Linked DNA regions of Homo sapiens: all the other regions are linked to region 3. Evidence: fine-mapped expression QTL. A gene starts in region 3. Each other region holds a variant in brackets. All regions are shown on one strand. Distances are from middle to middle.

What was found. PIP is the estimated chance that this variant, and not a neighbour inherited with it, causes the effect. A credible set is the group of variants that fine-mapping cannot tell apart.
Region 1: its variant is the best candidate, but not a certain one, in a credible set for the expression of PHF24 in whole blood (TOPMed, PIP 0.84).
Region 2: its variant is the best candidate, but not a certain one, in a credible set for the expression of PHF24 in whole blood (TOPMed, PIP 0.88).
Region 4: its variant is the best candidate, but not a certain one, in a credible set for the expression of PHF24 in whole blood (TOPMed, PIP 0.65).

What each region holds. Positions count from the first base shown.
Region 1 is chr9:34,920,677-34,928,360 of GRCh38, forward strand. It overlaps a transcript of PHF24 not described here and the pseudogene YWHAZP6. Among named protein-coding and RNA genes, the nearest start is that of SPATA31F3, 29 kb to the left of the region's middle. RefSeq lists enhancers at 5,602-6,123, 6,124-6,644. The variant T/C (reference allele first, on the strand shown) is at 3,430.
Region 2 is chr9:34,776,964-34,784,647 of GRCh38, forward strand. It overlaps a transcript of PHF24 not described here. Among named protein-coding and RNA genes, the nearest start is that of SPATA31F1, 51 kb to the left of the region's middle. The variant G/T (reference allele first, on the strand shown) is at 2,977.
Region 3 is chr9:34,955,209-34,962,892 of GRCh38, forward strand. It overlaps PHF24 (PHD finger protein 24), which reads left to right and starts at 3,077. Exons shown (of 8, transcript NM_015297.3): 1 at 3,077-3,193. RefSeq lists an enhancer at 1,636-1,775 and a silencer at 3,125-3,204.
Region 4 is chr9:34,980,835-34,988,518 of GRCh38, forward strand. It overlaps DNAJB5-DT (DNAJB5 divergent transcript), which reads right to left. Exons shown (of 2, transcript NR_109756.1): 2 at 4,576-5,103. PHF24 (PHD finger protein 24) reads left to right here. Exons shown (of 8, transcript NM_015297.3): 8 at 1-1,710. Among named protein-coding and RNA genes, the nearest start is that of DNAJB5-DT, 4.7 kb to the right of the region's middle. The variant G/A (reference allele first, on the strand shown) is at 4,660.

The DNA of each region.
Region 1 (7,684 bases), 35 kb before region 3:
CATCAATGTCAAATAGTTTTCATTATAGAGATTTTTCACTTCTTTGGTTAAGTTTGTTCCTAGATATTTTATTTTATTTGTAATAATGTAAATGGAATTGCTTCCTTGATTTATTTTTCAGATTGTTTGCTGTTAGCATATAGAAATGCTACTGATTTTTGTATGTTGATTTGTACTCTGCCACTTTACTGAATTTGTTTTTCAGTTCTAATAGTTTTGTAGTGAAATCTTTAGGTTTTTGCAAATACAAGATTATATCATCTGCAAACAAGAAAAATTTGACTTTTTCCTTTCTTTGGGTGCCCTTTCTTTCTGTTGTCTGATTGCTCTAGCTAGGAATTTCAGTACTGTGTTGAATAACAGTTAAAGTGAGCTTCCTTGTCTCGTTCCAGAACTTAGAAGAAAGGCTTTCAGTTTTTCCCTGTTCAATATGATTCTAGCTGTGGGTCTGTCATATATGCCTTTTATTTTGTTGAGGTATGTCTCATCTATACCCAGTTGTTTTTTTTTTCCATTCTTAAAACTTTTATTCCATTTACATGAATTTAATACACGTGTTCTTAACAATTATGTTTGAATTGTTCATGAAAATTTCATAAGACATTAAACAAAGGTAGCCATCATCTCAAGTTATTTCCGTGTTAACTATTTTTACAGCACATGCATGTTAGGCAAGTATCAAAAAAAAAAATCACAAAAGCAAAAAACCTAAAAAAAAAGTTAAATACATGGGTTTTTGTTTTACTGCTGTGCTTGATATACATGAAGTAATGAATACCAAGCAATTCATTTTCCCTGCATCTTTACTTTTACATTTGTTCTTAGGTTGCCTAAGACATTTAAATACAAATAAAATGAGTGTAGCAAAAATAATGAAAGCTAACAGCAGGTAACTTTACAAATAATGGAATGTGAACCGTTTCTGCCCTTATCCAGAGTAAAATGGGTCACAGCTTTGTCTAAAGGAACACTTCTGCAGCTATAGTCAAGGGTATGCACATTGAGATTGAGTGTTCCACAGATATACATGGTTTAACATGTGGTATCTGTGGGATATCTGTTTCTACCACAGCCTTGTAAGTGCTCCAAACCTTAAAATACCCACAATTACTACACCTGTGACTGGAACCAATGATCCCTTTTAGTCCCCACCAGGACAAACCAATATGTAGGCAGTTTTCTTTGCTTAGACATGGAAGCAGTTTTAACACTGGCCCTTGTAAAGCCACAATGTACCAAAAGTACTATGCCAAACATTAATAACTTGTATAAAAATTCCACATCCCCATATTGGCCACCTCAAGATGAAAACAGATAACTCCCTAAATGTTAACTGGCTCTACTCCCCTAATATTAAACATAAAAACCACGTGGGAAATATAGAAATTCAAATAGAAGTAACATAAACCTGTCATAAATTGTAAACAACTATTTGTGGGACAGCATGGATGACAAATGGTCTACTGTGTAAATTTTAGAACGAGGCAGACAAAAGTTGGAAGGCCGGTTAATTTTCCCCTCCTTCTCCTGCTTCAGCTTTGTCTCCTCGGGTATCCGATGTCCACAATGTCAAGTTGTCTCTCAGTAATTGCATTATTAGTGTGCTGTCTTTGGATGACTCTTCACTTAATGTATCAAGTTCAGCAATGGCTTCATCAAAAGCTGTCTTTGCAAGAGAGCAGGCTTTCTCTGGGGAATTCAGAACGTCATAATAGAACACGGAGAAGTTAAGGGCCAGACCCAGTCTGATAGGATATGTTGGTTGCATTTCCTTTTTGCTGATTTCAAAAGCTTCTTGGTGTGCTTGTTGTGACTGATCCACAGTCCCTTTCTTATCATCACCAGCGGCAACCTCAGCCAAGTAATGGTAGTGATCTCCTTTCATTTTCAAATAGAAGAATTTGCTCTCGCTTGTGAAGCACTGGGGATCAAGAACTTTTCCAAAAGGGACAGTACATCATTGCAGCTATCTCTTAGCTAGGTCTCAGTTTTCTCTCTGTATTCTTGAGCCATCTGCTGTTTTTTTCTCAGCACCTTCTGTCTTTTGTTCAATACTTGAGACGATGCTCCAAGATGACCTACGGGCTCCTACAACATTTTTATAAGCAACTGAGAGAAGATTCCTCTCCTCATTGGATAATTAAGCTCCTTGCTCAGTTACAGACTTCATGCAGGCTGCCATATCATCATACCACTCAGCCTGCTCGGCCAGTTTGGCCTTCTGAACCAGCTCATTTTTATCCATTACTGGATGTTCCAGCAGTGGTCTCACCTTGTGTCGGCATGGCCTCGCCCCAGTCTACCTGGGGGGTGCTGCTGGGCCGGGCCTGGGCTCCGGCCCGCCTAGACCCAGTTTTTTAAGTTTTGTTTTTGTTTTTTTTTTTTTTTTAATCATGAAGGGATGTTGAATTTTATCAAATGCTTTTTCAGCATCAATTGAAATGATCATATGATTTTTGTCCTTCATTCTGTTGATATGATGTATCACATTGATTAATTTGCATATGTTGAAACATCCTTGCATCCCTAGGATGAATCCCACTTGATCATGATCTTTTTAACTGTTATTGAATTTAGTGTGCTAGTATTTTGTTAAAGATTTTTTGCATCAATGTTCATCAGACATATTGGCCTGTAGTTTTCTTTTTCTGATGTATCTTTGTCTGGTTTTGGTATCAGGATAATACTGGCCTTGTATTTTTTGGAATAGTCTGAGTAGGATTGGTATTAGTCCTTCTTTAAATGTTTGGTAAAATTCAGCAGTGAAGCCATTGGGTCCAGGGCTTTTCTTTGCTGGGAGACTTTTATTATGGCTTTGATCTCATTACTTGTTATTGGCCTACTCAGGTTTTGGGTTTCTTCATGATATAATCTAGGTAGGTTGTATGTATGTAGGAATTTATCTGCTTCTTCTAGGTTTTTCAATTTATTGGCATAGAGTTGCTTATAGTAGTCTGTAATGATCCTCAGAATTTCTACATTATGAGTTGTAATCTCTTTTTCCATCTCTGATTTTGTTTAGGTCTTCCCTCTTTTTTCCTGGTTAGTCTAACTAAAGGTTTGTCCATTTTGTTTATCTTTTAAAAAAACAATTTTTCATTTCATTGATTTTTTATATTGTTTTCATTTTTATTTATTTCTGCTTTGATCTTTATTACTTTTTTCTTCTAATTTTGAGTTTGGTTTGCCCTTTTCTAGGTTTTTAGATGCATCATTAGTTTGTTTATTTGAAGTTTTTTTTACTTTTTTTGATGTAGGCACTTATTGCTATAAATTTTCCTCTTAGCACTGCTTTTAGATTATCCCATAGATTTTGGTATGTTGTTTCCATTATGGTTTGTTTTAAGAAAATTTGCAATTTCATTCTTAATCTCTCCATTGACCCACTAGTCATTCAAGAGCATATTGTTTAATTTCCATGTGCTTGTA[T/C]AGTTTTTTAAATTCCTTTTATTATTTCTAGTTTTATTCCATTTTGGTCATAGAAGATACTTGATATTATTTCAGTTTTCCTGAAATTTTTAAGACTTCTTTTGTGGCCTAATATATGGGCTGTCCTTGAGAATGTTCCATGTGCTGAGGAGAAGAATGTGTATTCTGCAGCCATTGGATGAAATGTTCTGTAAATTTTGATTAGGTCCTTTTGTTTCTTTGTTGATCTTCTGTCTAGATAAACCTGTCCAAGTCTGAAAGTGGGGTGTTGAAGTCTCCAGCTATTATTGTATAAGGGTCTATCTCTCTAGCTGTAATAATATTTGCTTTATATATCTGGGTACTCCAGTGTTGGCTGCATATACATTAATACTTGTTACATACCCTTGCTGAATTGACCCCTTTTTCAACATATAATATGACCGTTTGTGTTTCTTTTTATGGTTTTTGTCTTGAAATGTATTTTAGCTGATATTAGTATAGCTACTCCTGCTCTTTTTTGGTTTCCATTTGCATGGATTATCTTTTTCCATTCCTTTATTTTCAGTCTATTTGTGTCTTTATAGGTGAAGTGTGTTTCTTGTAGGCAGCAGATAGTTGGGTTTGGTTTTTTATCCATTCAGTCACTCCATGTCTTTTGATTGGAGAGTTTAGTCCATTTACATTCAATGTTGTTATTGATAAGTAAGGACTGCTGCCATTTTGTTATTTGTTTTCTGGTTGTTTTGTATATCTTTTGTTCCTTACCACCTCTCTTATTGTTTATTTTTGCAGTTGGGTGGTTTTCTGTAGTGCTAAGCTTTGATTCCTTTCTCTTTCTTCTTTGTATATTGGCTCTACCTGTGAGTTTTATAGTTTCACATGTTTTCTTGATAATGGTAATCATCTTTTCAATTCCAGATGTAGGACTCCCTTGAGCATGTCTTGTAAGGCCTAGTGGTAATGAATTCCTTTCATTTTTGCTTGTCTATGAAAGATTTTATTTCTCCCTCATTTCTGAATAATAGCTTTGCTGGCTATAATATTCTTGACTAGCAGGATTTTTTTATTTCAGTATTTTGAATATATCATCCCATTCACTCCTCACTCACCTGGCTTGTAAGGCTTCTGCTGAGAAATCCGCTGTTAGTGGGGCCCCTTATATGTGACTTGACATTTTTTATTGCTGTTTTTAGAATTATTTGTCTTTGGCTTTTTACAATTTGACTATAATGTTCCTCAGAGAGAACCTGTTTGGGTTGAATCTACTTGCAATTCTTTGAGCTTCCTGGACTTAAACGTCTATTTCTCTTCCAAGACATGGGAAGTTTTCTGCTATTATTTCATTAAATATATTTTCCTCATCTTTCCCCTTCTCTTCTACTTCAGGAACACCCATAATACAAATACTTGTTTGCTTTATAGTGTGCCAAAAATTTAGTAGGCTTTCTTCTTTCTTCTGCTTGGTCTAGTCTATTATTGAAGTTGTGGATTGTATTTTTAATTTCATTCATTGACTTTTTTAGCTCTAGGATTTCTGTTTGACTCTTTTGTATGATATCTATCTCTTGTTGAAGTTCTTATTCAAATTATCAATTGTTTTCCTGATTTCATTGAATTGTCTATCTGTATTTTTCTTGTATCTCAATCCATTTCCTTAAGGTTGTTATTTTGAATTCTTTTTTCTGGAATTTCATCTACTTCCTCAAGATTGGGGCCTGTTACTAGAGAATTGTCTTTTTCCTTTAGAGGTGACATGTTTTCTTGCTTTGTCATGATTGTGTGTTCCTATGTTGATTTATATGCCTTTGGTGGAAAAATCACCTCTTCCAATTTTATGGAGTAGGTTTCATAAGAAAAGACTTGTTTATATGAATGGGACCTGGGGTGTTGGTTCATGGGGTGTACTGGCCTTGGTTTTAGGAAGATACAGTAGTGTAATGTAACCTCCATGTAGTTTCTTCAGCCATTATCCACACTAGTGGCATTTGGCCATTTCTCAGTGGCCTAGTCTGAAATAATTTGTGGCAATGGTGGTGCAACTTTGCCAGGGCTGGGTTCACTGGCCTGTTTCTCAGGTCAGAGGCATGTGTGTGCATATGGTGAGTTGGCCAACTTGGGATCTGGCTCACTGGGGCTGGGGCCATGGGGCTATTACTCTGTCCAGGAGCATGAGTTATTTGGCCACCCTGGGGACATGCCTGCCAGAAGTGGCTCACAGAGCTGTTTCTCGAAGGCCTAGGACATGGGTGTAAGGCTGCTCAGCTGACCTGGAGGAATGCCCACCAGAGAGGCCAGCAGGGCTGTCTCTTAGGCCTGGTATATGGGTGCATAGCTGCTTGGCTGGCCTAGGGATACACCTGATGGGGTGATTCATGGGACATTTTCTCAGGCCCAGGACACAGCTGCACAACTGCTTGACTGGCCTGGGGGTGTTTCTGCAGTGGGTGGCCCACAGGGTTGTTTTGTAGGTCTGAGATGTAAGCACAGGGCTATTTGATTGGCCTGCAGGTATGCCCACCAGAGGTGGCCTGTGGGGCTGTTTTTGGGGCCTGAGACATGGGTGCACACCTGCTGTGTTGGCGTAGGAGACAGGTCTGGGGGCAGGCACAGGGTTGTTGCTCAGGCTCATGACACAGCTTCGTGGCTGCTCAGTTGACCTGGGGATACTTCTGCTGGAGATGGCCCACAGGGCTGTTTCTTAGGCCTGGTATGCAGGCACATGGCTTCCTGGCCAGCCCAGGGCATGTTCACTAGTGGTGGCCCACAGAGCTGTTTCTCAAGTCCTGGATGTGGGCTCTTGGCTGCTTAGCTGGTTTGGGGTCGTGCCTACCGGGGGCAGCCTGAAGGAGTATTTCCCAGGTCTTTATGGGAAATGCAGGGCCATTAGGCAGGCCAGGGGCATGTCTGCAGAGGCAGGGGTGCTGTGGGGCTGTTTCTCCGGTCCTGAGCATGGGAGCATAGCCACTCCACTGGCCTGGGTGCATATTAGCTACTAGGAGGCTCAGGGGCCTCTCTCTCTTGTGGGAGGGTGCAGAGCAGTTTGGCCAGCTCAAGGCAGGTTGGCCCTGGGCAGGACTGGCAGACTGTTCATCTGGCTGGAAGTGCAGTAAGCAGGGGTTTGTTTTCTTGCTGTGCAGGACCAGAGTCACAGCTGATCCTAGGCCCAAGCTCTGTGCAGCTGACGTATGGCATTCAGCCAACCGTGTGGTGTGGGCTTGGCATAATGAGGATGGAGCGCCCCAGTGCTGGAGATATGCAGTGGCTACCGGCCCCCAGAACAGGGTGTGCTTCAGAGTTTGCTCTTTTCTCAAGATGGCATTATGCTGCAGCAGCTTGGCCCACAGGGAGTGGGATGGGGGGAATGGGGAGTGCACACCTTGCTCTCCTAATCTGGAGCAATGTAGCTGCTTGCATACCCAGCAGCTCTTCAAACTGGGCTCAGGGCTTGGGAAGACCGTAGGATTCTTCTGTAATAAGGACTGTAGGTTTTTGCAGTGCCAGTGGGGGCTGGTGGAGATCTTGTGCTTACCTTTTCCCTGCAATAAGAAGTCCTTCCTGACTCTGGGCACATCCAATCCAGGTGGGGGAGACAGGGCTATAGAGGCCCAGTGCTTCCTCGCTGCCCTCCTGGATTTCTGATCACCACAGGTGCATCTCCACTCCCCCACCACACTCCACCACTCTCCCTTCCACACTCCAGTCAAACCTTAGTTTGTTTATTCATTGTGTTGGGCCTTTCTTGTGGGATAGATGAATACCAGGCATCTCTATCCAGCCATCTTGCCAATGTCACTATTGAAGGATTTTAAGCAGAGGTGTGACTTCATGAAACTTATGTTTTAAAACATTAATGAGTTGGGAGCTGGGGGGAGGTGGGGATAGTTAATGGATATAGAAAAATAGCTAGAATTAATAAGATCTACCTTTGGACCTGCCTGGCCAACATGGTGAAACCTTGCCTCTACTAAAAATACAAAAATTAGCCAGGCATGGTGGAGAGTGCCTGTAATCCCAGCTACTTGGGAGGCTGAGACAGGAGAGTCGCTTGAACCCAGGAGGTGAAGGTTGCAGTAAGCTGAAATCACGCCATTGCACTCCAGCCTGGGCAACAAGAGTGAGACTCTGTCTCAAAAAAAAAAAAAAAAAAATCTACTCTTTGACGGCACAACAGGATGACTATAGCCAATAATAATTGTACATTTAAAAATAACTAAAAGAGTATAATTGGATTGTTTGTAACACAAAGGATAAATACTTAAGGGATAGATACCCC
Region 2 (7,684 bases), 180 kb before region 3:
ATGATTTATTTGGCTGTAAACAGCATCAGTGGTATCTGTAATTTCCTCAGTGGCTTAGGATGCAGTTATTAGAGGAGGCAGTGAAGATTTTCTGGGGATGGGGATGCCAGGTAAGGCAGTCTTTGGGCCCCATTGGTGGCAGCAGTAGCTGAGTGTGTCTGTTCTTGGGCCCCAGGGTGGTATATGCTTGTACTGGTTTTAGGGGGTCCAGGTGGGCTGATTCTTGGGCCTCTATGTGTCTTACTCAGATGTCAGTAGTGGCAGCAGTAGGCTGGGTGGGTGGGGAGGTTCTCAGGACCCTGGGAAGCCAGCATGGTGAGGGTGATGGCAGTGGTGGGATGACTCTCTGGGCCCTGGTTGGTGTGTGCTGGCATTGGTAGTGAATGTGATGGTCTGGGCAGGCCAGTCTCTAGGCCCACAGGTAGCCTGGGAGGAATGTTCAGATGCCAATGGTGGTGGATTGGGCTGGGAGATCCCTTAGCCCCCAGATTGTGGCTAGGGCGAGGGCAGTGAAGTTGGGCAATGGCCGTACTGATACCCTACTACTAGGGAGGGTGGTGCTGCCCTCAGTGGTGGCAGCCTAGGCCAGTGGGTGGAAAATGCATGCCTCTCACATTTCAATTCTGGTGGTACTTGTGCCTCAGCCCTTGCTGCAGTAGCAAAGTAGTGCTTTGCTCATGCCTCAGTCCCAATGGAAGTATCTCAGCCCTCAGCCTGGGATGTGGTAGCCCATGGTAGCTGGTGCCTAATTCCTGGGGACAGAAGCCCATGCTTCTCTAGTGCCTCAGACCCAGCGCTGCTGAGCTCCAGGACAGTGTACTGTCTTTTGAGGGTGAGGCAATTTTCTGTAGCTGTTTAGGTCTCAGGGACCCAATGTTAGCTCCCTCCCTGGAGCAGTGTCATTTCACAATCTCCTGTCAGCTTCCTACTTTAGTTTTAGGGCCCACAAGGGTCATGGGACTCTCCAGTGGCTAGGATTGCAGAAGTCTGTGGTGGTAATGTGGATTGCTGAGGGTCTCTCACTTACCCTTTCCCCACATTGGTTTCTAGCTAATTCTGGCCAATCGGGCTGCCATGCTTTGTTTTTCTTCCTTGCTTTAGGTATTACCTGTCACTTTTCTATTGGATTCCAGTGTTCTCTCTTGGATGATCTATTCAAAGTGTGATTATCTACTCACTATTTTGGTTCTTCTTAGTGGATAAGGTGTGAAATGTCTCTCATCAGCCACAGTAAGGAGGAACAGAAGAATAAGAAAGACATGAGACACGTACAAAACAAAAAGCGTAATGGCAGACATAAATCTAACCATATCAATAATAACATAAAAGTAAATAGATTAAATAATTCAATCAAAAGGCAGAAATTGTCAGATTGGGTTACAAAAATGAGATCCTGCCTCATGATGTCTAAGGGAGATGTATTATAGACAAAGGTACAAATAGGTTGAAATAAAAGGATAGCATAAGGTGTACCATGCAACTAGCAACCATAGGAGAGCTACAGTGGGTTATACTGGTCTCAGACAAAATAGACTTTAAGACAAAAATGCCATTAGGTATAATGGACATTTTCATAATGATAAAAGGGTCAATCCCTCAGGAAGATGTAACACATATAAATGTATGCGTATTTATACAGAGTCCCAAAATACATGAAGAAAAACTAACAGAACTGAAGGGAGAAATAGACATTTCAACAATAACTGTTAAAGACATCACCTACTTTGAATAATGGATAGAAAAGCTAGAGATAAAATTAACAAGGATACAGAAGACATAAACAACATTATAAATCAACTAGACCTAAGAGACATCTATAGAATACCCCACCCAACAGCAGCAGAATACACATTCTTTCCCAGTGCACCTGGAACAGTCTCCAGGAAAGACCATTTGCTAGGTCATAAAAAAAGTCTCAATAAATTAAAGTGATCAAAATCACAGAAAATATATTCTCTGATTACAATGGAATGACATTAGAGATCAATATCAGAAGGAAATTTGGAAAATTCACAAACATGTAGATTAAACAACATACTGCTAAATAAACAGTGAGTTAAAGTAAAATCATAAGGGAAATTACAAAATACTTTGAGGTAAAGATAACTACCAAAACGTATGGAAAGCAGCAAAAGCAGTGCTGAAAGGGAGTTATAGTGATAAACATCTATATTAAAAGAGAAAAAAGATCTCAAATCCATAATTTTCCACCCTGTGAAACTGGAAAAAGAAGAGCAAACTAAATTCAAGGCAAGCAGAAGGAAGAAAATAATAAAGATTAGAGCAGCAAGAAATGAAAGAGAAAATAAAAGAATAGAGAAAAATCAACAAACTCAAAACTTGGTTCTTTGAAATGATTAAATTAGTAATTAAGAAGCTTCCTGCAAAGAAAATCTATGTTTTCTTTAACTTTCCTATGTGTTTCTACGTTGAGGATCAGAAGACTTAATATTGTTAAGACGGCAATGCTCCCTATATTAATCTACATATTCAACACAATCCTTATCAAAATTTCAGTTGAATTTGTTGGAGAAATTGACAGGCTAATCCTAAAATTTAGATGAAATTTTAAGAGACCCCCTAATGGCCAAAACAATCTTGAAAAAGAAGAACAAAGTTGGAGGAATCACACTTCACAATTTCAATACTTACTACAATTCTACAGAAATCAAAATATTGTTTTACTGGCATAGTAGACATATAGACAAATGGGAGAGAATTGAGAGCCCACAACTAAACTCTCACATATATGGTCAATTGTTTTGTTTTGTTTTGTTTTGAGATGGAGTTTCACTCTTGTCGCCCAGGCTGGAGTGCAATGGCGCGATCTTGGCTCACTGCAACTTTTACCTCCTAAGTTCAAGCGATTCTCCTGCCTCAGCTTCCTGAGTAGCTGGGAGTACAGGCGCCTGCCAACACGCCCCGCTAATTTTTGTATTTTTAGTAGAGATGGGGTTTCACCATGTTGGTCAGGCT[G/T]GTCTCGAACTTCTGACCTCAGGTGATCCACCTGCCTCAGCCTCCCAAAGTGCTGAGATTACAGGCGTGAGCCACTGTGCCCAGCTGGTCAGTTGATTTTTGATGAGGGCCCCAAGACCACTCAAGGACAGTCTTTCAACACATAGTTCTGGGAAAACTGGATCTCCATAGGCAAAAGAATGAAGTTGGACCCTTACCTTACACGCTGTACAAAAAGTAACTCAAAATGGATCAAAAACCTAAATTTAAAAGCTAAAACTATAAAACTCTTAGAAGAAAATATGGGGAGAAATCTTTATAGCCTTAGATTTGGCAATGTTTTCTTTTCTTTTCTCTTCTTTCTTTTTTTTCTTTTTTTCTTTTTTTTTTTTTTTTTTGAGACAGTCTTACTCTGTTGCCCAGGCTGGAGTGCAGTGGTGTGATCATGGCTCACTGCAGCCTCCACCTCCTGGGCTCAAGTGATCTTCCCGCCTCAGCCTCCCGAGTACAGGAGCACACCACCACACCCAGTTAATTTTTGTATTTTGTAGAGAAGGGGTTTCACCATGTTGCCCAGGCTGGTTTTGAACTCCTGGGCTCAAGCAATCTGCCTGCTTCAGCCTCCCAAAGTGTTGGGATTATAAGCGTGAGCCACTGCACCTAGCTGGCAATAGTTTCTTAAATATTACACCAAAAGCACAATAAACGAAGAAAAATAGGTAAATTTGATGTCATAAAAATAACATTTTGTGCATCAAAGGACAGCATCAAGGGAGTGAAAATCATTTGACAAAAGCCCAGCATTCAGAACATATAAATAAATCCTACAACTCAACTACAATGGCAAAATAAACCCCAACTTTTAAAATGGGCAAAGGATTTGGATAGACATTTTTCCAAAGAAGATATACAAATGGCCAGCAAGCACATGAAAAGATGCTCAACATCATCATTAGTCATTAGGGAGATGCAAATCAAAACCACAGTAAGGTACCCCTTTCACAATGAGATACCACTATCACATATACTAGAATGTCTATAATAAAACAACAACAGAAATTAACAATTATTAATGAGGATGTGGAGAAACTAGAACCTTTGCGCATTGCCAGTGGGAATGTAAAATAGTGCTGCTGCTGCTGTGTAAAGCAGTTTGGCAATTTTTCTGAAAGTTAAACATTGAATTACTATATTCCACTCCTAGGTAAATACCCAAACTAACCGAAAACAGGAATTCAAACAGATATTTGTGCATAAATGTTTATAACAGCATAATTCAACAATAACCAGAAGATAGAAACACCCCAAGGTCCATTAACAGATGAATAAGTAAACAACATGTGGTATATAGATATAATAAAATATCCAATCATAAAAAATGAAGTTCTGAACCTTGAAAATATTACACTAAGTGAAATAAGTCAAACAAAAAGGACAAATATTATATGATTTCATTTGAATGAGGGACCTGTAATAGGCAAATTCATAGAGACAGAAAGTAGAATAGATAACCTAATGGTTTGGAGGCAAGGAGAGCGGGGAATTATTGCTTAAAGGAAACAGAGTTTTTGTTTGGGTTGGTGAAAAAGTCTTGGAAATAGATAATGTGACGGTTGTACAACATTGTGAATGTAACTAACATTACCGAATTATACATTTAAAAATGGTTAAAATGGCACATTTTATGTTATCTATCATCACCACAACTTAAAATAATGAATAATAGAGCAAAACCCCTTGAATTGTACACTTTAAATGGCTGAAGTTATGGTATGTGGATTATATCTCAGTAAGGCTGTTAGGGAAAAAAAAAAAAGCATTGTAGGAAGTAGTTGGGAAATGTGTTAGTTCAACCCCATCATTTTCTGTAGGGGGAGAAAGCAGCAACAATGCATGTGCCAGTGAATTCCACTCTTGCAATCAATAGGTTGGTAAGTACAGCAGTTATCTGCAAAACTCTGTATTATTTCTATTATTAATGTGACATTTCCCAGGCACAGTAAGAATAGAAGGGCTGAAATTACATTCATTGTCCCCACATGGGAGAGAAGAACCTCCTGAAATCATGGGTTCTAGGCAAAAATGTCCAAATCTCCACCCATAATGGGACAGGAAGCAGGGTACATGAGCTAGCTCTGGAATGTGAGATTCTTTCCTGAAGAAGGAGGAATGATGAAACTGAGGGAGTAAATGAAGTCCTCCAACTTGCACGAGAGCTGGGTTACAAAACTCACTGAAGTGCTCAGTGGATAATTATTAGTGGAGATCACAGAGGCAGTTAGCAAATCAGTGGATGGTCACATGTCAGAGGCCTGAAAAATGAGAGCAAGACTCAGTGATTTTGGGGTAAGTAGGGTAGAGGAGGGACAGGGGAGGATTTCTCAGCAATTTCGTATAATAATAACCACTCGTGGTTTGTTTTCTGGTAGACACACATCTCTCAACAATTCATTAGTTCACTCCATCCACAGCTCCTCTATTCTCTAGCAGTTTGCCTCCCTCACCCCACCAAATCCCATACCCCGCTTATGAAAAGTTGAGGATTATTTCTTGGACTGATTCAAGGTCACAGAGATATTTGAATGCCATATGGCTAAAAATACAGATCCAATCTGCCTTCCAGTCCAGTGACTCATCCTGTCACTAGAGGTAGAGAGCAAGAGCATGAAGTGGAAGTACTAGACTTCCAACAGCGATATAGACTACTCCAATCCCTGAGGCAGAGGTAAGGGTCTGACTTAGAGAGGCATTTATGAATTCATGGGAAGTAGCTCTTCTTCCATGTTTGGAAGAGCTTCTCAAACATGCCAAGTCTTATGCAAAACAAACTTGAGAAAGCTCCACACCCAACCTACTGTTTGATTGGGAGAGGCCTACATAGCAGTGGTAGGGTTTGGGGATGGGGTAGGATGAGGGATGGATCCCTGCTCCAAACCTATATCTTTAAGCTAGTCTGACTTATCCAAGCACCAGGCATCAGAAAAGCCTCAAATACTTGAACTCCAATCCCAGAAAACATCCATCTAAGCCCTTCCTGATTTAGCTGCAAACTGTGTTCATCTAGGTTGCGTTTTGTTTCTGACCTGTTTCTGACCTATCTCTTTTCTTATTTGTAGCATTGCTCTTGCCTCCAGAATTCCCAATTGATCCTCATTTTTCAGCTTGACTCTCAGCTTTGCTTAAGAATTCTGTTTAAATTCACTTTGGATCTTCCTGCTCCTTGCTGCCCCATCCCAGTTCAGTCCTTAGAACTTAAATCCTGACAGTGATATACTTGGCTGATGCTTCAACCAGGACCACCAGGTTTAGTCATAAGCGTGAAAGGAAGCAAGTTACACTGCGCCATCTTATCCACATGGATTTCATGAAAGGGCCCGATAACTTATTAAAATCCATCCTCTCTTCTCCGGACTCTTAATATTGAGAACTGAAACCATTTACTCCTACACAGCTTACTATCTACGTTAACATGACTTTAATTTCAATTGTCTTCACATCCCAAGACTTTGTGCTCCTGGCTTCAAAACGACCTCTTTTCTTTTTTCACCAATCCTAATATTCTATCATAGCCCTTACCCTATCCTAATTAAGCCCTCTCTATTGCACTCACCCCTGCTCTGACAGACCTGCCTTAAACTAGACTTCAAAATCTGAATAAATCAAATCTTGTTCATTCTCCTCCAAGAAACTACCATATTATGTCTCCCTTATCACTGTAAGAAATAAAATAATCTTTTTCTTATCAATAAGTTGTTCTGGTAATATTTAGGGACTTGGAATTTGATCAGTTTCCTGATATTATTTCCTACAGATTACAGAAAATGTAATACTGCATTGGGAGGGCAGTGACTTAATAACCTCAAGCTTCCCTTATAAAGAATATCAAATAAAGTGAATAGCGGTTTCTGGAATACAACCTGAACTCCAGTTTAACTTTTTAATTGATGTATAATGTTGCCTTTCCTGTTCTAGCCCATTTGTAATTTTTAGGTATCATTAAAACTTTTCTTAGACCAGTAAAACTCTCCATCTACTTGCTGAAATTTCTGCTCTATATTTTTTAGCATAGACTTTGAGATAGTTTTTAAACACTGCCTCCAAGAAGCCAGCAGCTAGTGGGTTTGACAGCTATTTCCTCTGTGCTCGAGTCAGTGCCAGAGTAGCTTCTGTAGGTAATCTCCCTGCATGGCTGGCTGGCAATATCATTTTGATATAAGATATTCTCTAAGGAAGAGTTTCCATAAATAGGCTTGCTGCTAGAGCTGGTGGAGGCGTCTTGCCTAGTAATTAAGTTTTCTTGTACAAGGAGTTATATGGTTTTGTATGTGCACAAGTGAAAGTGCATAAGACATGCGTGGGCAGGTATGCTTTCAACTTGTTAGTGATGTTCTCAACTAGGAGTTCATGCTTCAGGGAGTAGGAAATGATTGCTTATTCTACCATTTCAGAATTTGCATAATATATCTGGGGAAAATATTTTTAAATGTACTATGACCTTTTTATCTTGTAAGGAGTGAAGGAAATCCTTATCCTATTCCAATTTGAATTATGTTCAGCCTCAAACGGTACCATAAGATGGTATGGTAGGTGCAGGGAGACAGCACTGTTAACACATAGTTCACATGCATAGTCTGAAAGTGTCTGTTTTCTGACCTTTAATTTTCCATGACCAGGACAGTATTATACACAGCTATTTCTTAACATAAACTTATCTGACGATTTCCACTGT
Region 3 (7,684 bases):
GTGGTAACCGTATTTGTCAATCTTATAAGCCCAAAAACTTATGGTCATAAATATCTGAACTCAGACCACCTCAGAATATTTTTGGCATATGTTTGCCATAGCCAAGAATATGCAAAAAAAAAAGAAAAGAAAGTTGAAAACAGTCCCTACCTTGTAAAGACAGTTAAGAGTGGTTGGTACAGGCTAGGGCCAGCCGCAAGTGGCTCACCTGTAATCCCAGCACTTTGGGAAGTCGAGGCAGGGAGATCACCTGAGATCAGGAGTTCAAGACCAGCCTGGCCAACATGGCGAAACCCCGTCTCTACCAAAAATCCAAAAATTAGCCAGGTGTGGTGGCACATGCCTGTAATCCTAGCTATTCGGGAGGCTGAAGCAGGAGAATCGCTTGAACCTGGGAGGCGGAGGTTGCAGTGAGCCGAGATCAAGCCACTGCACTCCAGCCTGGGCAACAGAATGAGACTCTGTCTCAAAAAAAAGAGTGGTACAGGCTGCTCTCTAGCAACCCTTTCACCTTGTCAGAGTCCCAGCTGCCCCCAGACCAACCTTATTCAATCCCACCTTGCTTTTTCTTTTGCTATTCCTTTGACCTTGAAAATCTTATCTTGTGCATAATTCTGTGTCCTCCACTTGCATAAACTACCTCCAAAAAGTTTGCACTTTCTAACCTCTCCATTCTCTGAACAATAACGTAGTAAAAGCTGTCTCTCCTCAACATGAGAAAAACTGCATGTAATTAAAAAATGAAATTGATAAATTTTGATATGACTTTTAATGTTTTAATACCAACAATAATTTAAATGGTCATTATGCATTCCTTAACCCAAGTACCTCCCTTCATAAAGTAATCTGTCTCTCCCACCTTGGAACTTCCATTGTATTTCATTCCTCTATTGCGCACACTGATTTTCTCTTTTGTATTATGATTATGGTTCTCTGTCAATGCTTGTCCTCTATGAGATTATAGTTCTTTGAGGGAAAGTACTGTGTCTTACTCTTATTTGCACCCTTTCTAGTTCTCAGCACAATGCCTGGCATTGTACAGATACACAATGTACTTTTGTGTGTGTGTGTGACGGAGTTTCGCTCTGTCACCCAGGCTGGAATGCAGTGGTGCGATCTTGGCTCACTGCAACCTCTGCCTCCTGGATTCAAGAGATTCTCCTGCCTCAGCCTCCCGAGTAGCTGGGACCACAGGCGCGTGCCACTGCACCTGGCTAATTGTTGTGTTTTTAGTAGAGGTGGGGTTTCACTATGTTGGCCAGGCTGGTCTCGACCTCAGGTGACTCACCTGCCTCGGCCTCCCAAAGTGCTGGAATTACAGGCGTGAGCCACCACGCCTGGCCACAATATAAATTTTTTTGAATGAAGGAAGGAATTAACCGACAGAGATTTATATGATGATGTTACAACCTCCTTTTCCATATAAGCCCATCAGACAGCCTAGAAATAAAACACTTACTAAAAACAGTTCAGAGAAGTCTATCTGTGAAACTGTCGGTATGATGTAATTCTAAAGAAAGTTAGGGGGGGACCCCCAGACTATATGGAAGGCTCAGTCTGCTTTTTAGTGCTAGTTTCACAACAAGCAAAATAACCATAGTGTCTCTTGAGAAATAAGCACTAATTTTAGAACTAATAAGTACTAATTTTAGAACTCCATATATTAATGGTTTATAGCCTCTCCTTTCTCAGTGGCAGGACTGAGAAATAGGAGCTTGCGGTATGAAATCAGAATACCTGAATTTCAGTCTCACCTCCATCACATATTAGCCATGTGACCTTGGGCGAGTTGTTTAACCTCTCTTTGCCTCAGTTTCATCACTGGCAAAATGTCGAAACTAACAGTAGACTCCCTCAAAGGGATGGTGTGAAAATTAATGACAACATATTTAAACCATTTAGAATAGTACCTGGCACTTCGTGTTTTAAAGTGATAGAAATATACCATACTTGCCTTATATCCTCTATTGGTAAATTCCATGTTAAGGGCAAAATTTCTTTTTTATATCGCACCAGGGTACCTAGCACAGTATGTAACAAATACTAGACGCTCAAAAAAATGACATGCATTATATTTGAGGTAAATAAATTGAATGCACAAGAAAATAAAGGTATTTTAAAAATGTAAGTGCAATTAATATAAATTAAAGGGCTCTCGACATATCATTTGCATATCTTCAATTTTTCCTTATAATTAGTTGCTGGCTATCTTACGATTTTATCTTTTTCTTGCCCTCTTCAAAGCATGTAGTTTGGTGTAATGCACATTATAGCCCTCAGAATTGCTGGCCTTCTGACAAGCTAGCTGTTTGGATATTGTGAGGGATGAGGTTGCTGCAGCAAAAAGTGGGTTACACGACAGCACAGCCTCGCTGCTGGAGATGAAAAACCAATAATCCCAGAAAACAGCGCATAGGGTAGGCTGGGCCAGCCGAGGATTATGTGAAGGTTCGTTGGGACCCTCCGGAGGCCAGTGGGGTACTGCAAAGGTGAGTGCCCCAGTGCCAGGGGTCGTGAGCCCGGAGCCCTGCGGGGGACGGCTGGTAGGCCCTGCTGGATGAGTCATTCTCCCCACCCCGGGCACGTGCTGGTGGCGGCATCCACCCGGACCCCGCCTTCCCCCCACCCAACCCCCGGCGCGGAACGCGAGCGGTGAGCGGCCCCAGCGCCCCCAAGGCGCCCCCTCCGGGCCGCCTCCTCCGGGCGGGCACTGTCCTTGCCGCAGTCGGCCGCTGGCGCAGTCCCCGCGCCGCAGTGCCGGGCGCTCGTGGGGGGCGCCCACGGGCACCTGGGCCGTCTGCTCATCGGAGCCGTCCGCCGTCCTCCCGCATTCCCACGGCGCCCCACGCCCGCGCGCCCGTCGCCGGTCACCCGCCGCCCGCGGAGCCGCGAGGGCGTCTCCTGGAGGCGCAAGAGGACTGGGCGGGGCGGGGCGCGCCCACCGGCCGGCCCAGGGCACCTCGCGCGGGTGCACACGCCGCAGCCCCCCGGGGCGGGTGGGTGTGCTCCGGCCGCGCGCGCCGCCGCCGCCGCCGCCGCCGCCGCCGCCTCCTCAGCCTGCCGCTCCGCCCGCGCCGCCTGCTGCCGGCGCTCGGCCCAGCACGCCGGCTCTCGGGCTGCCGTGGGCTGCGCGGGGCCCGCGGTGTGTAGAGTCCGCCGCCCCGGAGCCGCGTCCCGCACCCGGACGGTCCCGGTAAGCGGGGGCGGGGGCGGCGGGGACCGGGCCGTCACCTGAGGGGCGGGTCTGCGGCCGCGGACAGTCCTCCGGGACTCTGAGGTGCTTGTGTGGGAGCCGCCTCCAAGGTGGCCCCCCTGTGTCATTGGATGAACCCCAAGTAGCTGCTGCCTCTACGCCTTGGGGGAGTCCCTGAGGTGCTGTGGGGAGCCGCCCCCATAAAGACCCCCTGTGGGAATGGACTCCCGCGGCGCTGTCTGCATTTGCTGCCATAGGGAGCCCCAGCGTGGAGGGGACTGGCCCCAGAGAGCCCTTCTGTGTCACTGTGGGAGCAGGCACAAGGGTGGTCTCTGGAGCTGGCTCAATGGAAGACCACCTGGGAACATAGGGGAGCCGCAGGAACCTCGAGGTGGTGGAGCCCCCAGAGGGCTCCCTAGAAAAGGAGGACCTGAGACTGTGCCCTAGAACTGTGGGAAGCAACCTCTGACTGGGGAGGGGGATCCTCCCATGGGATCCATGAGTGACTTCCCACGGCTCCAAGGACTTTGGCCTCCACCGGGATCCCTGTAGGGTTCCATGTGCCCTTACTTGTATCCCCACACCGTGGCCCAGAGGTGGGGGCCTTCTAGGGCTGCAGCCTCTTTCCATTCCTCCTCTTTCCCCATTCGGATTTTTCTTCTCCATGGTAGCCCAGTTGCTCCACGCTGCATTTTAGTGGAGACAGAAACTGCTGCGAGAGCACAGGGCCCTAAGCCGAGGATGAGGACCAGTGAGGCCTCTAAAGCAAAGATAGGAGATTTGAGCCCCTAGGTTTGACCGTGCGGAAGGAAGCAGTAAGATCAGGTGGAATAACTGACTTTGGCAGGTCCTGGAGGGAAAGGCCTTTGAAGGAAGGAATAAAGGATGTATGGGATTGTTGAGCACCAGTACGCTAGGCAGTATACTAGGTATGTTTAAACATCTCATATAACTCTTACAACAGCTTTGTGAAATTATCCCCTTTTAAACATTGAGACTCAGAGAGGTTTAGCAATTTGCCCAAGGTCACAAAGCTGATGAAAAACATAATCATAAAATGTTTTTCAAATTTTATTTGGGAAAAAGTACTAAGGAGCAGCAGAAGAAAGAATAGATATTTGTTAATAAGTTGCATTAAGGTGCCTGCCGAGCATAGGGTTTTGCAGTGGTACAAGCTCAGTAAATGTGATGATTAAATAAGTGGATGAGGACAGTTTAACTGGCCATGAGATTGCTGCAGGAACTGATTTCCACAGAATCCCCAGATTTCAGGGTGTGGCTTCCTTCACTGGCAGTCCCACTGTCATGATGCCTTGGGGTGGCTCTGGACCTAATTGAGGCCTCTGGGTGTGGTTTTTGACAGGGCTTTCTCTGGGGATCTAGGGGGACCCTTCTGCGGATGGAGTGTCCCAAGACCACCCTACCTGCTACCGAATACTCGAAGGAGAGAAAGGAGAGACAGGATCACTTTTAGGAAGCACGATCCACACTGTCCTTGTGACCCTCTGACTACATGCACCGGTGGACAATGGTCCACAGATAGCACTCAGGACACTTTTGCCCAAGAGTGCCTCTGCATGAGGAGGAGGAGGACAGGAAAGGTGCAGAGCCAAGGAAGGCTCACTGGGAGTCTGTTAGGGGGAGCGCAAAGGGTCTGCGCCAGACATAGTGTTGCCTCCTCATCTCGCCCCCTCGTTGTTTTCATTCTAGCTGAATCCCAAGAGTTCAACTTTGAGCTCCAAGGATGGATTCTGGTTTCTTGTCCAAAAACGGAGTGGTGAGAGGGCCAAGCAATGATATTCATTAGAGCCATTCTGGAAGGGTTTTCCTGCTCCCCTTCCCTGCTTTCTTCCACACAGTCAAACCTAGTTAAATCCTCCTTGAACAGAAGTGGCTTCCTTTGGCTCCTGGAATTACATAGTGAGGAGAGAGACCAAGCTAGTGGGAAAACAGAACAACATAGTTTACCAGTTGTTAGATTTTTTTTCTTTTAACTCAGTGATGCTACCTTGCGCGCAACTCAGTGGAGTAAAGCCCGACAAAGGTTTTTGTTGGTTAGGACCTCCCCATTGTAAAGTTGTTTATAATCCCCCTTTCAGTTCAAACCCATCTGATCAGCTTAACAGATCAGAATAAATAGGTAGGCATATATTTAAAGAAAGTCAGAAGGACCAAACCTGAAGATATGATCTTTGTTCCAGATCATTGATTTGTCATTGAGGTTTTATTCCTAAATTGGTCTTTTGTTGAGGGTGCTTATTATCACACCCACTCATGACCCTGGAAAAATCACTAAATGGATCCAGGCTCTCCCCTAATCTTGGACCTTGGATATCAGCTTCCCCATGTCCAGCATTGGGTAAAATTAAGATTTCAAAAATCCTAAGAATACAGCCTAACTCTCCCTAGTCACAGCATGAGTCTGCAAATCAAATCATTCCAGAATGTGCACGAAAGATGTCACCAGGTGGCCTTAACCTTCTCAAAAATGCTCTCTCCAAAGGGAAATAAAAGGGGAGAGAACGGCTCACCCAGTTTCATTTGAGCTTACCCAAATGTGTCTGGATTTTACTGTCTGGATTTCTCAACCTTTGATCTTTCACATATTCTCCAATCTTCTAACATTGTCTTCTTCTAACATTTGCCATTCCTTTCCTTCAACATGGATAGTAAGACCTCCCCAGGCCCATTTCCCCGACTCCTTGCAATTTTTTCCACTACACCTGTTCCTAAGTGAATCACATTCATGCAAATAGTTTCCCTTCTCTTTAGCTACAGAATCTATTATCTTTTAGTCCCACACGCTTCTCTCCAGCAGTGCTGCTTGGCTTCTGCTATCTTCATGTCCCAAATTGATTTATTCATTTCTGATGGGAATATCATTATCCACTCCACCCCTCAATCTTAATGACCAAATTCTGACAGGAATTGCTTGCCAGCTTTGGACCAAGAAACCAAGACCATCAGTGTCCAGCTGAAGACATGATTATTTTTTCCATTAGCACATCCCCCTCCATTCTCCCCACTCTTCCAGCAATCCCCTCAGAGACTCACTTACATTTACTAAGTGCTACTTACTTGCCAGGCACTATGCTAGATAAATATGAGAGTTTCTTGCCCTTGAGGAGTTCACATAGAATCAGTCTGCATTTCTCTAATCATTCACTATAAAGAGTAGGAAAAGTAAGGGGGAAATTATGGCATTACAGAATATCCACAGGAACCAATATAGAGTATGCCTTTTCCCAAGCATCACTGAAACTCAGCTGCTGTGCTATGCCTCCTCTGGCAGCCACATTCAGCCCTCCTGCCAGTGCCCTGCCAAAATTACTTTTGCCCATATACTCTGAGTGTAAACTGACCACATTTTTGCCTTCCTTATGATAGTAATGACAGAACCTTTTATTTAGATAGCATGTTACAGTTTATGAAGCCCTTTTAGATATATGTTGGCTGTTTGGTTTTGAGAAATGCTTCATCTTACTGGGGTCCTCTCACTGAAGCAGAGCTGTGTGGGCTAATTGGCTCTCTCTCTTTTTGTATGTTTGTTTTTTTGAGGCTTAGGAGTCTCCCAGAGGGAAAGCCCCAGTGATTCACTACAGTCACCACCTACGAGCTCTTAGGTTGCGAAGGAGTTTCCTGTTGGGTCCTAAGGCCAAACAATGCACTCACTGGTCAGCGCTGGAACTTATCAGGGCAGTCCCTCTTCCTGGCCTCAGCAAATCCAATTCTCTGGGATTTTCTTCCTCCTTGAAACTCAAATACATATTCTAACAAATATTTTAAGCATACTATCTCAAACCAGTTCTTTGGGCTGATGCTAATTCTTATGTGAAGACACGTTTCCTTGCCTATTTCTATCTAGCCCCCAGGCTGGCTTCATACCATCTAAGTCATGATGGAGTCCCCATATAGCTCCATGCCTTGGCATGTGCTGTTACCTCTTCCTGGAATGCTTTTTTTTTTTTTCCTTATCCACTGATGTAACTCCTACTCATATTCAAAATTTAGCTCAAGCAACACCTTTTTTTTTTCAATCCTACACTTATGCCCCCTGCACACGCACATACTCACTGCATTCTCACAGGCTGAATGAGCTTCCATTTGTTCATTCTACCATCAGTTATTAAGCACCTGATTTGTGCCTGACGCATAGTAGGCTGTACTCGGCGAAAGTTTGCAGAATCAACAGAGAAGTAAATGGTGATAATTAAGGTGTAATAATTGCATTACATGGGGCTGAATCTGTGTTTCAGGGAACCAGAGCAGAAAACAGGGAGTGCCTCTCCATCTTGCTGAAAAGCTCTGCTTGCTAAGTGCAGTCTCACCAGCCAATCACTGATGGTGTGATGTTCCTTAACTGTTGCTCTGCCTCTGTGGGAAGTCAGCACTGTGGCTTTTAATGAAGACTCAGGCCCTAAGAGGCTAAGCTCATGCCATAATTTTGCTCTCATCTATATTAGAACTTTGTGAGCTTTCAGTAAATATTAA
Region 4 (7,684 bases), 26 kb after region 3:
GCCTGGGTTATAGACAGGCTCCTCTGAAGCCCACTTGCCCTAAGCATTTTTCACCTAGCATTCCTCTTCCTCATGTTCAGATGTGAATGAAGGGGCAGCTGGAGGATGTGGTGGAGCTGCAGGGACCGAGGGTCAGCTGAGCAGTGGCCCTGGCCACAAAACCACTCCAAGTCTGCTCCTTGGCTTCCTCTCCTGAGCCCAGCCTTCCCCAACAGAACACTTGAGCAAGGGCCCCTAGAGTATCCCAGGGATGGAGCAGTCCCCTCACTCTAGGTACTGATCTAACCTTCAAGTGCTCCTCTTCATTTGAGGACACCTACAGTAGAAACCATGAGGACATTGCCTCTTTCTGCCCTCAGCCCAAGTACCTGGGGCTAGCAGGGCAGATACCAGCCTTTCTGGTCCTGCTGCTCCCTATGGGATGTCACCCTGACCTTGCTTAAGTGGCCAAGTCTTAGGGTCCCCTTATTCCTGTCACCATTATGAAAAACACAGCATTAAACTGCCTGGGAAGAGGACACCTCCTTGGGGGAGTGAGCCCCAAGGTTATACCCAGGACTCATAGCCCAAAGCACAACCTCGGCCATTGCAGGTTTCACAGCTTCAGTCAGAGTGGTGCCAGGAAGCCCAAAAGCCAAGAGGGAAGGTCAGCAGAAGCTGCCTGGCAAGGCCCCAGGCCAGCCAGGCCCACCCCAGAGCCAAGAGAAACTTCAAGCAGGACTGAGAACTGGTAGCTGGCTCTAGTGATCCTGAAAGCATGTTCCCTTCAGACCAGCAGAGTGAAGACAGACAGATGTGTGGCCCTAAAAGGCAGAACAGTTTTGATGCCAGAACTTCAGGACTGTCACCACAGTCCCTTTTTACCCCTCCTCTATTTACAGTGAAATAAAATTCCTATTTTCTTTTTTTTTTTTTTTTAATTTTCCTTATTTCAAGCTCTTATCTGAAAAAATGCTACTTTCTCCTACCACTTAGTTTGAATTTGCCCAGGATATCTGTCTGGGCCCCTGGCTGCAACCCAGACAATGGCGAGATCTCCTGGAGTGGGGGATATTCACGCATCGTGCCTGTTCCTGACAGCTCAGCCCTGGTGTAGGGTGGGACTGGGCATTTTCTCTGCTGTTACTTTTCTGCTACCACTATTTTTGGCAACCTTGGAAAGAAAATAAACAGGTTACAGAATTTCGGCTAGCACTAAGGGAAAGCTTTTTCCTCTGGGCCACATGCCCCAGTGACCCAGAGCATGGAAAGGGGGTCAGCTCTGGTCTGGGCCAGTGACTAAGAAGCCCAATCACATTCCAGTTTCTATAGCACTGGGTAGGCACAACCCACAGTTAAGAACATCAAGTTATAAGTAGCCAGGCCTTTTCATAGCCATGGTGACACAAAGGCCCTCAAGATTAGCCTCCTGCCATCATGGGTTGGCCTGTGATCTGTCCCCCAGCCAAACCCAAGTTTGTGAGAGGGACTCTGAGAACACTTGAGCAACACTTGGGAATCCAATGCGCTCTGGTCCCTCATGCCCTTCCCATGTGCTTTTCTGCAGAAGGTAACTTGACAGCAAGCTGAGGGGAACGTCCCCAAGCCCTGTCTCCCTGTCTCTACAGCTGCATGCTCCTCTGCGTGGCCCAGCCTTCACAGCGCTCCAGAAGAAGCTGATGCCCTGAGGCTGGGCACAGTGGAAATCATAATAAAGCGATTGCGATGCTCTGTCGGCTTCCTGTTTCTTGTTGTTTGGGGAACCTGCCATTTCTGTGTGGTTTCCCATTGTTGATCAATTCCTGGGTCTGAGCATAAGACCGGGGCAGCTGCAGCTGCCAGGAAGGACACAACATGCTGTGACTCTTTCTAGAGTTCTCCTGGCCCTGACCTTCCCAAAAATCAAGAGATGGGTAGAGGTAGGGGCACCACACATACAGATACAGAGATACTGATATTTCTGTATCCAGCACAGATACAGAGCAGAAACAGGAGCACTGAAGTGGAGAGCCAGAGCTTTCAAAGAAATTGAGGATGAGGTCATAAGGTCTCCAAGGCTGTCTGCTCTGTGTTGTCCCTCTCCTGTGCCATGCCCCAGGGCCAGTTTTAGACACTTCCCAGTTCCTCCTGAGCTAAAAGTAAGGAAACTCATTGGCTGTTTTCTCCTGGTCTGAGTGTTTCCTCCCCATTTTGACAAATTGCTTTAATGTAATATGATAGGGTTGGGAAAGCTAAGATTGGAGATGCCATTTGGGGGACTATGGGATCCCCATTCCTCCCTTTTATCTGGTGAGAACAGAGTCAGTACCTGTAGGTGAGACAGCATCTCTAGGCTGTGGATCAAAGGCCGATACTCTACCTCCAAAACCAGAGAGGGTCCCAAGTACAAGTCGTCTTTAACATTTTTTGAGCACTTACTATGCACTTGGCAGTGCTTTGCATAGAGTCACTAATCTTCACAATAATCCTATGAGATTTTTATTACAGGTGAGAAAAATGAGGAACAGAGAGTCCATGTTTCTCAAGGTTACACAACCACACAGGAAGTAGGGGAACCAGGCAGTTTGCCTTCAGAGGACATGTTCTTAGCCACTTTGTTGTGCTTCCTGTCAAAGCACATCTCAAAGGAACCACTGCTGTGTGAGCCAGCACCTCCCCTCCCCACCCTGGGAATAGACACAGACAGGTAACCAGGCCTGTATCCATGGCACGGATTTCTTACCACTGCACAATTCACTCCATCCGCTCACCAGGCTCCCACACCTCTCCTCCCTGAATTCTTCCCATGGGGTCCACCAGACTGAGAGCAGATTAATGACATCCCACCAGCCCTTTGTCCTTGTCTCCAGGCTCAGTGAAGCTAAGCATTGGGACAGAAAAAGGGCATAAAAAGGCTGGGTGTCTGTGGGCCCGAATGAATAAGGTTTCCCTGCCCTCAGTTCAGCAGTCCTGGCTGGAACTTTAGACCCTCTGAGGACTGTTCCTCCCACCAACTGCCACTTGTTCCCAGGACTGGCCGGGGTCTTGGTTCTACACAAACCTCCACCCACCTTGTCCTGCTCTGGTTCAAATTCATTTCCTCTTTATCCCTGGGGAGAGTCATTCCTTAAGAGAATCAATGGCTGCTAAATTTGCTAAACATGGAGTAGTGCTCTCTCCCACCCCACCCTTTCTAAGGGTTGCTTGGAGGTTGACTTTGTTGAACCTCAGTTTCCTCGACTGTAAAATCTGTAGGACAGTCCCTGTCCTGTAAGCCTCCTGGGCTGGTTAATTGAGGAAAGAGTTTTGTATAAGAGGAGAGAGCTTTACAGATTGTAAGGCACTGAGTAAGTAGCAAGGATTTCTGCTCCATCTGAAGGCTGTGAGTGTATCATCTCCACACTCACACAGTCCCAGGCATAGCTGGGTCGGGGTGGGGTGGGTACTGTGATTGCCTCTGTCCAAAGTGCTGAAGTCATAGCCAAGCCAGCTGAGGACCTTCAGTCCCTCCTTGTCCCACCTTTGAGTAACCATCAAGTACAGAGATTTCCAAGCCCAAAGATTGTCCTAAAATTGAGAATGTATTGCCAACAAATTTATTTTATTTCAAGTATCTTTGTTTAAAATGAATACAGCTCTCCATTCAAAATTATAACACGTACACATGAACAAGAGGTGATTTAGCAGCTCAGGGAGAAAAGAGCTTATGGCCTTAACTCGGTATGGGTGAACAGTATGAGGTGGCTACCAAAAAATAAACTGATGGGCCAGGTGCGATGGCTCACGCCTGTAATCCCAGCACTTAGGGAGGCCGAAGCAGGTGGATCTCCTGAGGTCAGGAGTTCAAGACCAGCCTGGCCAACATGGCGAAACCCTGTCTCTACTAAAAATGCAAAAATTAGCCAGGTGTGGTGGTGCACACCTGTAGTTCCAGCTACTCAGGAGGCTGAGGCAGAAGAATTGCTTGAACCCAGGAGGCAAAGGTTGCAGTGAGCCGAGATCACACCATTGCACTCCAGCCTAGGCAACAGGGCGAGACTCCATCTCAAAAGAAAAACAAAACAACAACCACAGAAAAAACTGATGTAATCTGAGCCTATGTGGAAAGAAGTTCAGAGTCAGAGGAGGGAGGCAGGCCGGCTCATTCGTACCCTGCACCAGCTCTCCTGGAAAAAGCTAATCATAACTGGGCACCACAAACTGAAACCCATTCAGGGAAACATGATCTTAGTGAGTAGAATTGAGAAAGGCAGGGGATGAGTCCATGAAGGCATGGGTCCTGGAGAGAAGCAGATTTGAAGGATGCAGATGGTGATGTTTGGCAGATGGACCAATGAGGTCAGTGTGGTCCCAAGGACAGGGCTAAGATGAAATGTGAACACTGTGGAGAGGCAGATTTCTGCTCAATAGGACCAAACATAACTGGTTACCAGGAAGGCAGTGGAGCTGTATTAAGCATGTGACAGAAATGCTGATTTGGGGGTGGGGTGACTTCAGTCCTCTTGAGACCTGAGATGCCAGTAAACAGTTAAGCACATTCTGTGCATACCCAGTGCTGAGCCCAGGTGAGCCAGAAGGAGAAGATTCATGACTGTAAGAACCCACATAACCCCAAAGTTTTGGTGTCAAAAACGAGAACTTTAATTTTTTTAGCTCACAGGTGGGCTCTTGGACGCTTGCCTCTAGAACCTGATGTTGCAC[G/A]CCCTCTGCTGGTCATCCCTAACATTGCTCTCTCATCCCAAGGCAAGAAATCACCCCTCTGAACCCTTCTGGTGCTGGTCAGCATAGGTTCAGAACACGCAGGGAGACGCCAGCGAATATCAGGGAGTCAGATCCCTGGTAGTGTTCAGTTAGTTCAGTATAGGATCAGAACTGAATCTGAAGATGAATTCAAGTATTTTGTATCAAAATTAGGGCTCAGCCATGTCTAGGAGGAGGGTTTGGGCAGAGGCTGGATTCGGGGAACTGTCTCTACCAGGACAATAACCAGGTTGTGTCTCAGGCTGAGGTCAAAGTTGGGACTCAGTGTGGGACCAAAGTCTGGGCCTGAGTGTCAGCATGAAGCATGTATCAGGTGAGATGCTCAGAGTCTGATCACAGGAGGGAGGCCATCTGCAGCCAAGGTGATGGGTCAACGTGGCATTCCTACACCCAGGAGAAAGCATCAGGTAATGAGTACCCAGGCACTGGAGAACTCAAGAACAAACATGGAGACTGCCCAGGGGAGAGATATGAGGGACAGGGGACAGCAGGAGATAGTCACTCATTTCTTTTTTTTCTTTTCTTTTCTTTTCTTTTTTTTTTTTTTTTGACAGGGAGTCTCGTCTCACTCTGTCACCCAGGCTGGAGTGCAGTGGCGCGATCTCGGCTCACTGCAACCTCTGCCTTCTGGGTTCAAGCGATTCTTTTGCCTCAGCCTCCTGAGTAGCTGAGATTACAGGCATGTGCCACAACACCTGGCTAATTTTTTTTGTATTTTAGTAGAGATGGCAGGTAGTCACTAATTCGTAAGGCCCTCCCAACTTTAAGGATGGTGATGGGTAGGCCAAGTAGCCCCCTGTTCCTCAGTATTCTAGTATCCCAGTATTCTAGTTCTGGTTTCCTGTTAAAGCCCCCGCTCCTGCTCCCACACACACACTAGTACTACCACATACAACTCATAGGTACAACTGGGGGAGAGAAGTGGCCCAAGGGCCAGTTCTGTCACTGCAGGGAGGTGGCAGCTGTGAGGGTAGTCTTCCTTCCCCCCAGGATTCTCTGTTTCTACTGGCAACAGGGCCTGGCAGCCTCCCACACCCAGATCTTAGCAACCATGGGAACCCCTGGCAACCATTACCATGGTGACAAGACAGGGAACTGAAAACAGGCTGGGGGCACTTCCTCTGCAGCCTTCGGGATGTGAGCAGGATAGGGGCTCCCTTCCCTATACAGTCTGGGAGGGAACATGTGCCTCTGTCTAAAACACCTCCTCACTGGCACCCACCCCCACCCCTGCCCACGGGTTCCGGTTCCCTCAGGGTGAGGAAATGAGGGACACCTAGGGTTATGACGTCTCCAAGGGGAGGGAGGGTGAGTGGGGGCGTTTGGGACTGGCATGATCGCAGATGCGTGCATACGCTGGCAGACATGGTGTCAATGTGTCAGTGCCTATATACCTTATCCACTCTTTGTCATGTAGACACATGCCCGCACAGTCATTTACTCACACATGTACACTGACCCAAAATCATATACCTACAACATATAACAGAATCAGGCACACCACCACACAAAAATAACTGCACAGATCCACTCACAAATCACATTACCAGTACCACACTACAAATAACTCCCAGACTCACAGATTTATAGATGCACTCGCACTCCCAGCATCTGTGAACATGTAGAGTAATGGTTAACTTGGTTGAGTTAACCAAGTTAACCATTGGTTGGGTATAAACTACATGCCCAGCTCAGAACTAAGTGCACTACCTGTGTTACCTTAATTAACCCTCTCAACAACCCCCTGAGGCACCAATCCCCATTTACAAAGGAGATGAGGCATGAGTGTGGCGTGTAAGCTCACAAGGTGCATAGACTCCAGACCACACTGTCACAGTCCATGCCACACTGAGCACTACACACACGTGACACCCAGGACAATGGGACTGAGGGCGGGAACCGAGGACTAGGCAAACAGTGGAGTCTGTGCCACCAACACCTGAAGGCACAGTTCTGCACCCTCAAAGGTCCGAGCCTACACTTTAGCATTAGCAGGGGCCAGGTAAAGGCTGGTGACTAAACTCTCTGCCTCCGTGTTGGCACAGGCAAGGCTGGGGGAGGCAAAAGAGACAGAACTGGAATAGGAAGAAGTAGAGCCACCCACAGCCTGGGCCCCACAGGTGTGGAGGTGGAAGAGTGAGAGCCCCCAGATCTGAGGAGCCAGCAGCGGTGCAGGGCCCCTCACCCCACCTTACCCATCTCTGTGTCACACAGAGATGTCCATCCCTCCTCCCTCCCCTCCCCCTTCCTCACTCCTCCTCACCCCATCTCTGTGCCTCATCCTTTCATTACTCACCCCTTCTTTCCTCATCCCTCACCCTGCCTTCCTGCCCCTCCCCAGCCCTTCTTTCCTTATCCCCCACCCTGCCTTCCCTCCCCTCCCCAGCCCTCCTTTCCTCTGCCCTCCTTACTCCCACCCTATGGCTCATCTGCCCCATGCCCCTCCCCTCCTCATCCCCCTCACCCCATCTCACCATCCTCTCACCACCCCCTCTCCCTACCTCCCCCCCTCAACCCCATTTCCTCAAATTCCTCATGCTCATTTCCCCACATTCATCACCCATCTCTGCTCCCCTCCTGGCCCCCAACCCCACTTCCTTTCCATCCTCCTTTCACCCCAAGTCTCTTTCTTCCTTCACACCTCATGCCCCTTTACCCTTGGGAGCCCCATAGTGACTCCTGGCATGAAGGTAGGTAGTGAAGAATCTACAGACATGACTCCAGGACCCTGGCACCCCCCCCCCGCCTTGCTCTGCTCTTGGCCCAGGTACTCAAGCTGCAGTTTCTAGCAAGACCTCATGGGTGTCCAAACTCTGTCTCTGGAAAATAGGAAAGAAAGAAGTAAAGGGGAGCTTCCGGCCTGACCCTTCTATCATCATCAACCCCCCAGCACTCCCCTCCCCCACTTCACCCCCAAATTACTCCCTCCCCACCCCCGCTCCCTCGAGCACAGATGGGCCTGGGA